Linked DNA regions of Homo sapiens: region 2 is linked to region 1. Evidence: fine-mapped expression QTL. A gene starts in region 1. The other region holds a variant in brackets. All regions are shown on one strand. Distances are between the middles of the regions.

Region 1 (4,386 bases):
CTTTCAGTGAAATCACGTACACCTACCAAGTATCTTCACTCATAAGAAAACTGTACAATTAAGAAACAATACTAAAAAGAAACAGAAAGGTTGGCCACCTTTGTCAATTAGGTAGAATAACACACTGACAAAATAAGACACACACACCAGCAGGAGGTTCTGCACCACTGAAAAGAAGCCGGTGCGATGGCTCAAGCCTGTAATCCCAGCACTTTGGGAGGCCCAGGCGGGCGGATGACGTGAGGTCAGGAGTTTGAGACCAGCCTGGCCAACATGGTGAGAGACCAACAACCCCCTCTCTACTGAAAATACAAAAATTAGCCTAGCTTGGTGTCGGGCGCCTGTAATCCCAGCTACATGGCGAAACTTCGTCTCTACTAAAAATACAAAAATTAGCTGGGCGGGTGGCAGGCACCTGTAGTCCCAGCTACTCGGGAGGCTGAGGCAGAAGAATCGCTTGAACCTGGGAGGCGGAGGTTGTAGACAGAGCGAGACTCTACCTCAAAAAAAAAAAAAAAAAAAAAAAAATGTCCTCAAAAGAGCAGTAGACAGGCTGAACATGAGAACCTCTGCTTTGCTCCCAGCCGGTTGTGAACTTGGACAAGGCCATTTACTCTAGACCTGTTTCTCTACAGGCAAACAACAGGAGGCAGTTAGCTAGCTCTGAAGTTTCTTCCCATTCTAAAATCTAAGACAGTATGCTAAACATGGGCAAATAACTTAAAATTGCATAGGAATATGTGATACAAGTAACGTTTAAAGACTCATACATTCATCCTAATTTACTGTGGGAAATAATATAACCATCTTACATTCTGGAATATATGACACTTAAAGGTTTTGGGAATTAACCCATCAAAACCTGGAGCAGCAGCATCCATCTTAAAATCTCCAAACTCCATCGCTACCTGGTGAGGGCTGAAACTCTCTTCCCTAAAATAATCTTCAGGCCACACTGGAAGCACCTCCCTCTTACGAAAGATACTGCATGACCTTTAAGCATCCAAGTGGTTTTGAAAAGACTTCATCTGGCCATATGCTCACTGCTCCCATTACCTCTTTCCCAAGAGTTGAATTAAAGAAAGGTTAGGCAAGAACCCTTCCAAGAAGGCTCCCGGTTCTCACGACTAGGAACAATCTGAGGACAAGATGTCTGGGCAGCGGAATGTTATGAAAAGACCCTGGCCTGGGTTGTCTATCAGCCTCGTCCGTTAACTTTCAACTGCCCGAGTGCGTTTTTAATTCCGTTTCTTTAAATGCATGGCCCCAGACTCCCTGACGTGTGCAATCTTGGGTGGTTCAGGAGGCTGCTCTCAGCTTTACTGGGCGCACAACCCATCGCTTTAAAAAAAAAAAAATCACTTGGGCAACTTCGAGAAATCTAATAAAAAAATAAAAAAGGAAAAAGGAGAAGCAAGGCACAGCCTCTCACCCCACACGTGACTGAAGCCAACCCTAGACGAGCAAATGAATTTTCCTGACAAACGTGTGGCAACAAAGGAATGCTCGCTGGGGGGCTCCCGCGCCCGCCAGACGCTGCCCGCCCGCGAGCCCCGCACACCTGATCCCCGACACGTCCCGCGGCAGCCGCCCGCCCCGCCCCGCTCCCGCGCGTCCATCCCCCGGCGTCCCCGCCGCACGTCCCCATCCCGGCCCACGTCCCCTCCGCGGCCCGCTCCGCCCACCCGGCCTCCCCGCCCCCCAGGCCCGCCCCCGCCCCGCCCCGCCCGGCTCCGCTGCTGGGGACCACCCCCCGCACCAGGGGGATCCGCGCTACCCGCGCCGCTCCCGGACCGCGAGCCCAAACGGCCCCGGGCCCAAGACCCCAGGAGGCAACAGAGAGGCCCGGAGCAAGGCAGGCGCCCCTCCTCTTGACAGGGGACGGGAGCTGTCAGTCACCTGGACATCCCATGCCTGAGCCAATGAGCTGCCTTCTCCTCCCGCCTCCCGCGCCGCGCCGGTGGCGGCGGCCGGGGCTGCTCCTCCTCCCCCATCCCCTTCACAGAGCCTCGGCCCCGCACTCACTGTTGAGGCCGGCCGGCGGGGGCAGAGACTGCTCATTTTCCTCGCAGTTGTTGTTGTTGTTGTGCAGGGGCGGCGGCGGCTCGACTAGGTGGGACGACATTGTCGGACAGCTGGCAGGACTGCGGCAGCAGCAGGACCGTCTCCGGCACTCAGGCAGCAACACAACAAGCCGAGTCCGCCGCCCCCTTTTCTGCGCCTGCGCCGTCCCTCCCCTGCCCCTGACGTCAGGGCCCGCCCAGGCCACGTGATGACAACACAACAAGCGACCGGACGGGGCAGGGGCGCTCCCCTGCGGGCCCCGGACGTGGAGACGCTCGAGTCAGGCTGACGCGCGCGCCGGGAACGAACTCTTGCGTGTGACTTGGGATGACCGGATGGGATGAGTGATGCCAGTGGCAGTGGGAGAGAGGATGAGGAGAAACGGAATGAGGAAGTGCGCTCCTGTGTTCGCGCCCGTGCCTCCTCTCACACAGGCTCCACAGTGCTTCACCCAGCCCTGCGCACGCATCTGTTTTCTACCTCTTAGGACTCACTTCTGCAATAGGTGTCTTGGGGACACAAAGGAATCCCCAAACCCAGGTGCCTCCACGTGTAAACTCCAAATAAAGCTGCTGAAACATCAACACTCCATACGGGAAACAAGGGAAGGCCGCCCCCAAATTTAATTGTTACAGAATTTTTAAAATGTCGATTACAAACACACCATCATTCTGAAAAAAAGAGAAAGAAGAAAGGGGAAGAAAGAAAAAAGAAAAATTCAGGAAAACAGAGAGAAGAAAGTACTCACCCAAATCCCATCGACTAATCGATTTCTGGGACATGACGTGGGAAGCCGTTTATCCTGTACGTGGATGACATTAAACTATGTTCCTGAGCACACCTCCTACTTCACATCTCCATGTCTTCGTCCAGTCTCCTTGGTCTGATTTATGAGTGACATATGTTTCTCGCAGTCTCTAACTTGTCTTTTAATTTGTTTTTTTCACTCTGTAGAAGCTTAAGGTTTTCATGTAATCAGATTTATCATTCTTACATGGCTTGGGGAGACAGTCACACCAAGATTACTAATCTATAATTCCCTTATAACTTTTTCTAATTTTCTTATAGGCTTAACTTTACATTTAGAGCTCTAATCCATCTGAAATTTATTTTCCATATGCTGTAAATTATTTAACTTCAATTCTTCCCAATTTTGTAGCCCATTGACCTAATAATATTAATTTTAAGCCATCCTTTCTACACTGATTTGAAATTGCACCTTTGTCACTCTCTGAATGACCACAAAAATGTGAGTCTGTTTCAGGGCTATCTGCAATACCTCTGTTAGATAACTATTAAAGTTTCTCTTCCTTTGTCTTTTTCAGATGTTAATGGCTAGTTACTCTTCAGATGAACTTAAAAATGGACTTGTCCAAGATTGACCTTGTGTTGGTAATTATTGAAGCTATGTAATACATTAAAGTATTCCTCTAATTTTTTAATATATTTGAAAAAGTCCATGCTAAAAGGTTTTTTTTAAGGATTGATTTGTCAAATCCCTTTGCAAATTCTTTTAAGATTTTGGTCAGAAATGAACTCTATTAATAGATTGAGTGCTGTTTCCGGTCATACCCGGAAGCAGGAGTTCAAGCCGCAGCTGGTAGGGATTGGCGGCTGCTGGCCATCTGAGTTTTATTAAAACTGCTCGCCGCGAAGCCAGTCTTCAGCCAGAATGTCCAGCAGAAACAACAACAAGCTGCCCAGCAACCTGACTGCAGTTACAGAATCTGATGAAGCGAGACCCACCACCCTCCATCTAGGAGTTTCTACAGCAGTATAATCACTACACATCCAATGTGGAGATTTTCAAATTGCAACCATATAAACCCGGTAAAGAACTAGCAGAGCTGGTGGTGTTTATGGCACAGAACGTCCTAAATATGTGCATCTGAATAATAGGAGAGAAAGAGAGAAACTTCAGAAGAGCCTTTGCTTTGTTATAGATTAGTTACTGCTACCCAGGGTATCTAAGTAATTTTCCTCAAGTGGTGAAAGATCTTCTGTCCTGTAATCATACTGTATTGGATCCAGATCTTCGAATGACATTTTGCAAAGCTTTGATCTTGCTGAGAAATAAGAATCTCATCAATCCATCAAGCCTGCTAGAACTCTTCTTTGAACTTCTCTGTTGCCATGATAAGCTTCTGCAAAAGACTTCATACACATATATCGTGACTGATATCAAGAATATAAATGCAAAACACAAGAATAAAGTGGATGTAGTATTGTAAAATTTCATGTATACCATGTTGAGAGATAGCAATGCAACTGCAGCCAAGATGTCTTTAGATGTTATGATTGAACTCTACAGAAGGAACATCT
Region 2 (4,386 bases), 83 kb before region 1:
GACAAGACCCTCTATGAGAAAAACTTAAAGATGGTGCGTTCCTCCGCTTGCTCTCTGAGGTCACCCTGCTCTGCAATGGAGAATTTCTAATAAACTTGCTTCTTTCACTGCATTCTGTGATTCACCTTGAATTCCTCCCTATGTGAGATCTGAAAACCCTCTCCTGGGGTCTGGATCGGGACCTTTTTTCTGTTAACAAGATGATAGCTTCACTTTCTGGCTAAAGAGTCAGGGCCACGGACAAGAAGCCAAGTCCCGTTGTAAGTTTGAGTGGTCATTACCAAGATTTGAGCTGAAGAGAGGTCAAAAGTTGTTGCAAATTACACCCAGGATTTGTTTTAACATGCAACATGAAAATTGCTGTCATGAGGGAAGAAGTTTTTTATATTCACAGACCCCTAGAAAGAGGAAGTACGGCACACCACGCAGGGTCACATGGGGAGGCACCAGGGTGGGTCAGGAGGGGGAGGGAGAGAGGCTGGAAACACCAGCAAGAGCCTTTATTGTGGTTTCCATGGTAACGGCCAGGCAAGGCAGGGCGAGCAGGCTGAGGACTGCCAGTGGGCTCTGCAGCATAGGAGCTGCCCCTAGTTTCCTCATACCTGGCCCTAGGGTAGTTAGGGCAGAGGCCCGGAGTTTCATCCTCTGTCATAGAGACAGGTGGGGGTGTGGACCTTGGATTGGCTGGTTTCCAATATGGAAGGCACACTTGCAGGCAAGTGGTTACCATCTCCAGGAATTAGCTGGCCCCGGGAAAGGTGGTCTCTCCAAGATCAGCAAGGCCGCAGATGCCAAATCATCAGCAAATACAGAAAATAAAACAACGTGAGGAATACAAAAGTTTCAGTTCAACATGGGAACTGAGGATCATGAAACAAGGATAGTCAAAGTGCTGGCAAATTGGAAGGGAAGAAATGGTTATATGGGAGTTAGCCAGACATGGTGGCACACACCTGTGGTCCCAGGTACTATGGAGGCTAAGACAGGAGGATACCTTGGGCCCAGGAGCTCAAGGCTGCAGTCAGCTACAATCACACCACTGCACTCCAGCCTGGGCAACAGAGAAAGACCCTGCCTTTAAAAAATAAATTATAAAAATAAAATAAAATAAATGGTTATATGAGGACCTACTAGTTCTTTAACAAGGACCTCTGGGGATGCTTTAAGGCTGCCCACAAACAGGCTGACTTTAGCCTTCTAGTGTCTTATGTCTAATGTCTTAAAGGCAAACCTTCATGTAGTTTAGAAACAGAAAATGGTCTTCCCAGCTAGAACATTTTGTCTCCCCAGCTCATGGAACACAAAAATAAAGGCAAATGTCTGTGCAAAGAATTTTTTTTTAATGAGTGAATTTATGTGAAAAACTTGACAAAGATATACAATTTAAATCACATTTAACTGGTACATTTAGCAATTCATCTCCATTCCAATGAATAAAATAACAACCATCTGAGCTATTCCAGAAAAACCCTGCAAGGCAGCCTGCTCCTCTGCGTGCGGGGACGTCTGCTTTCCATTAGGTTGAGGATAGATCCAGCTCCCCCTGCTGATGCACTTCCAAGGAAAAGGCAGACGAAGGGAGAGGCTGCCAGGCTGGCAGAAGGGCACATGTACAGGATGGCCATGTGCAAATCCACCCAAGTGGACCAGCCATATTCCCTGCAATCTCTGATGCAGCCAAGTCCAGCTGAGACATTAAACAGAGTCCGTGGTGACAGGAAGCTGAGGCTGCCTAGAGCCAATGC[G/C]TCTGGTGTAATTGAAAAGGTCTTTGGCCAGTGGCACTGGGGGCAACAAGTGCCGTCCTCTGAGATGGCTGAGGCCATTCCTCCACCCCCTTCCTCTGCGGTCTTGGCAACTGCACTTGCTCCAGCACAAAGAAACGCTGAAGCTGCAGGACGGTAGTGACCCAAAAGAAAGAAGGGTACCGTCAATTCCTTCTCAGCTTCCCATCAGGACAGAGGCATCGAAGCCACTGGCTATGGGTTCCCATCCATTGTTGTAACCATCAAACATGAGCACACTCCCTCCAAGCCAGGAACTGGGCAACGTGCTGTGTGCATAACCCAGCTATGTGCTGGTGATGCCAAGAAAAACCCCAGGCTGCCCTTTCATAAGGTCAGCACCCAAGACCCGGGCGAAGAAGGAAGGAGAGCAAGGAGTCTCCCAAAACCAGCAATCACTTCTCGCTGGTTGGACCGGACAGTGCTGGGAGTGGAAACAAGACACATCCTCTCCACTCTCAGGAATTCAGTCTAGTGAGGAAGCCAAGGAAGGAATGCAAACAAACACTTCTGAGCCGACGTGGTGTGTACAGTGAGAGGAGTGTGGATTTAGCATAGAAATAGCACAGTGGGGCATTTGAGCTGCATTTTAAAGCATAGAAAGGATTTCAGCAGAGCAGGGAGGAGAGAGAATTGATGATCCAGCCAGAGGAGCACAGTGTGCACAGGCAGGGAGGCAGATGCTCAGCACACGCTCAGGAGAGGCAGGGGGCTGACTGCGGCTGGAGGGAAGAAATGCAGGGGCCAAGAGGGTCCCTCTTAATAGTCAGAGGGACCAGGGGGTGGGAGGCCCTGGAAAGCCAGAGAGGAGGTTATGTGCAGTTGGTTCATCCATCAGTCATTTTTTTCTTTTTATTAAAGACGGAGTCTCACTCTGTCACCCAGGCTAGACTGCAGTGGCGCAATCTCGACTCACTGCAACCTCCATCTCCTGGGTTCAAGCAATTCTCCTGTCTCAGCCTCCCAAGTAGCTGGGATTACAGGCACGCACCACGATGCCAAGCTAATTTTTTGTATTTTTAGTAGAGATGGGGGTTTCACTATGTTGGCCAGGCTGGTCTCGAACTCCTGACCTCTGGTGATCCACCTGCCCTGGCCTCTCAAATTGCTGGGATTACAGGTGTCAGCCACCGTGCCCAGCCCATCAGTTATTTTTGAATTAGGGGCATGAGGTCAGAGCTGCACTTTGGGAGATCTCTCTGGCCACATTGGTGAGGTGGGGCAGGAAACTCCAGAGGCAGAAGACGGTCAAGGCCTTGACAATGGTCACACGGGAGGGAGGGACTCCTGCCTAGAGGTGACGGCCCAGGAAATGAGGGCCATGAAAGGAAAGAAGCAGCCAGACTTGGAGCAGGAAAGGGGAGGCCATGGAGAGAGAAAAGCTAGATATGACTTGAGTTTCCAGCACAAAAGACTGAGAAAAGAGTGATTTAATAAGGAGAAAGGAAAGAGGAAGGCAGAAAGGAGGGCTGCTCACAGAGAGGTTCTGAGTTCTGAGAGGTGCCCAAAGGTGGGAGGTTACTGGTAGATGCAGGGCTGGTGCTGCGAGGAGAGGTCACGGTAAGGGACAATCATGACATCCATTGGGACAGCACTTATTTACATGGTCCCCTGGATGCTCCTGCTCATGACACCTGGTGAGGTTGGCTCAAGCTGGTGTCATTTCCACCAGCTGAGCGATAAGAAAACAGGAAGAGTCCTGCTAGAATTAGAGCCTGGGTAAGTGCCCGAGTCATTTACCCAGTGAGCTGAGATCACGCCACTGCACTACAGCTGGAGCGACAGAGCAAGACTAGGTCTCAAAAAAAAAAAAAAAGAATTTGTCAAACGGATGAATAACTAACTGGACCCTCCATGGCGTTCTTCCTTTCCTGAGCTAAGGAAGTTTGTCTTGGACCCCATGGACGGTCCAGTTAGTCATTCACTCATTTGACAGATTTTTTTTTTTTTTTTTGTGAGACAAAGTCTTGCTCTGTCACCCCAGCTGGAGTGCAATGGCATGATCACAGCTCCCTGGAATCTCAACTCCTGGGCTCAAGCAATCCTCCCACCTCAGCCTCCCTAGTAGCTGGAATTACAGGCCCATGCTACTATCACTGGCTAATTTTTTTTTTTTTTTTTTTTGAGACAGAGTCTTGCTCTGTCGCCCAGGCCGGAGTGCAATGGCACGATCTCAGTTCACTGCAAGCTCTGCCTCCTGGGTTCACGCCATTCTCCTGCCTTAGCCTCCCGAGTAACTGGGACTACAGGCGCCACCACCATGCCTGGCTAATTTTTTATTTTGTGTAGAGGTAGGATCTCACTATGTTACCAGGGCTAATCTTGAACTCCTGGGCTCTTTTCCTAATATTTAAAACTTAACAAAAGTCTTTGTTCTTCACTAAGTACCAACAATTGATGTCTATGAAGGAGGTTTCCAATACACCATGTCCATGGCAGCCTCATTCACAATAGCCAAAAGGCAAAAGCAACCCTAGGTCCATCAACAGATGAATAGATGAACAAAATGTGGTTTACCCACCCAATGGAATAGTATTTGGCCTTTAAAAAGGGAGGAAATTCTGACCCATGCCACGACATGGGTGAACTTTGAGGATATTATGCT

Direction of the effects. Positions count from the first base shown, and alleles are read on the strand shown. Sizes are in standard deviations (SD) of each study's normalised expression.
For the expression in cerebellum of the gene that starts at base 2,202 in region 1, allele C in region 2 goes with a higher level than allele G (small effect, 0.30 SD a copy in GTEx).

The links. PIP is the estimated chance that this variant, and not a neighbour inherited with it, causes the effect.
Region 2: its variant is the best candidate, but not a certain one, in a credible set for the expression of BNIP3L in cerebellum (GTEx, PIP 0.85).

Annotation. Positions count from the first base shown.
Region 1 is chr8:26,380,870-26,385,255 of GRCh38, reverse strand. It overlaps BNIP3L (BCL2 interacting protein 3 like), which reads right to left and starts at 2,202. Exons shown (of 6, transcript NM_004331.3): 1 at 2,026-2,202. The coding sequence starts at 2,125. It also overlaps the pseudogene SDAD1P1. RefSeq lists a silencer at 1,453-2,042 and enhancers at 2,253-2,552, 2,526-3,725.
Region 2 is chr8:26,463,611-26,467,996 of GRCh38, reverse strand. No RefSeq gene overlaps it. Among named protein-coding and RNA genes, the nearest start is that of PNMA2, 48 kb to the left of the region's middle. RefSeq lists an enhancer at 345-394. The variant G/C (reference allele first, on the strand shown) is at 1,746.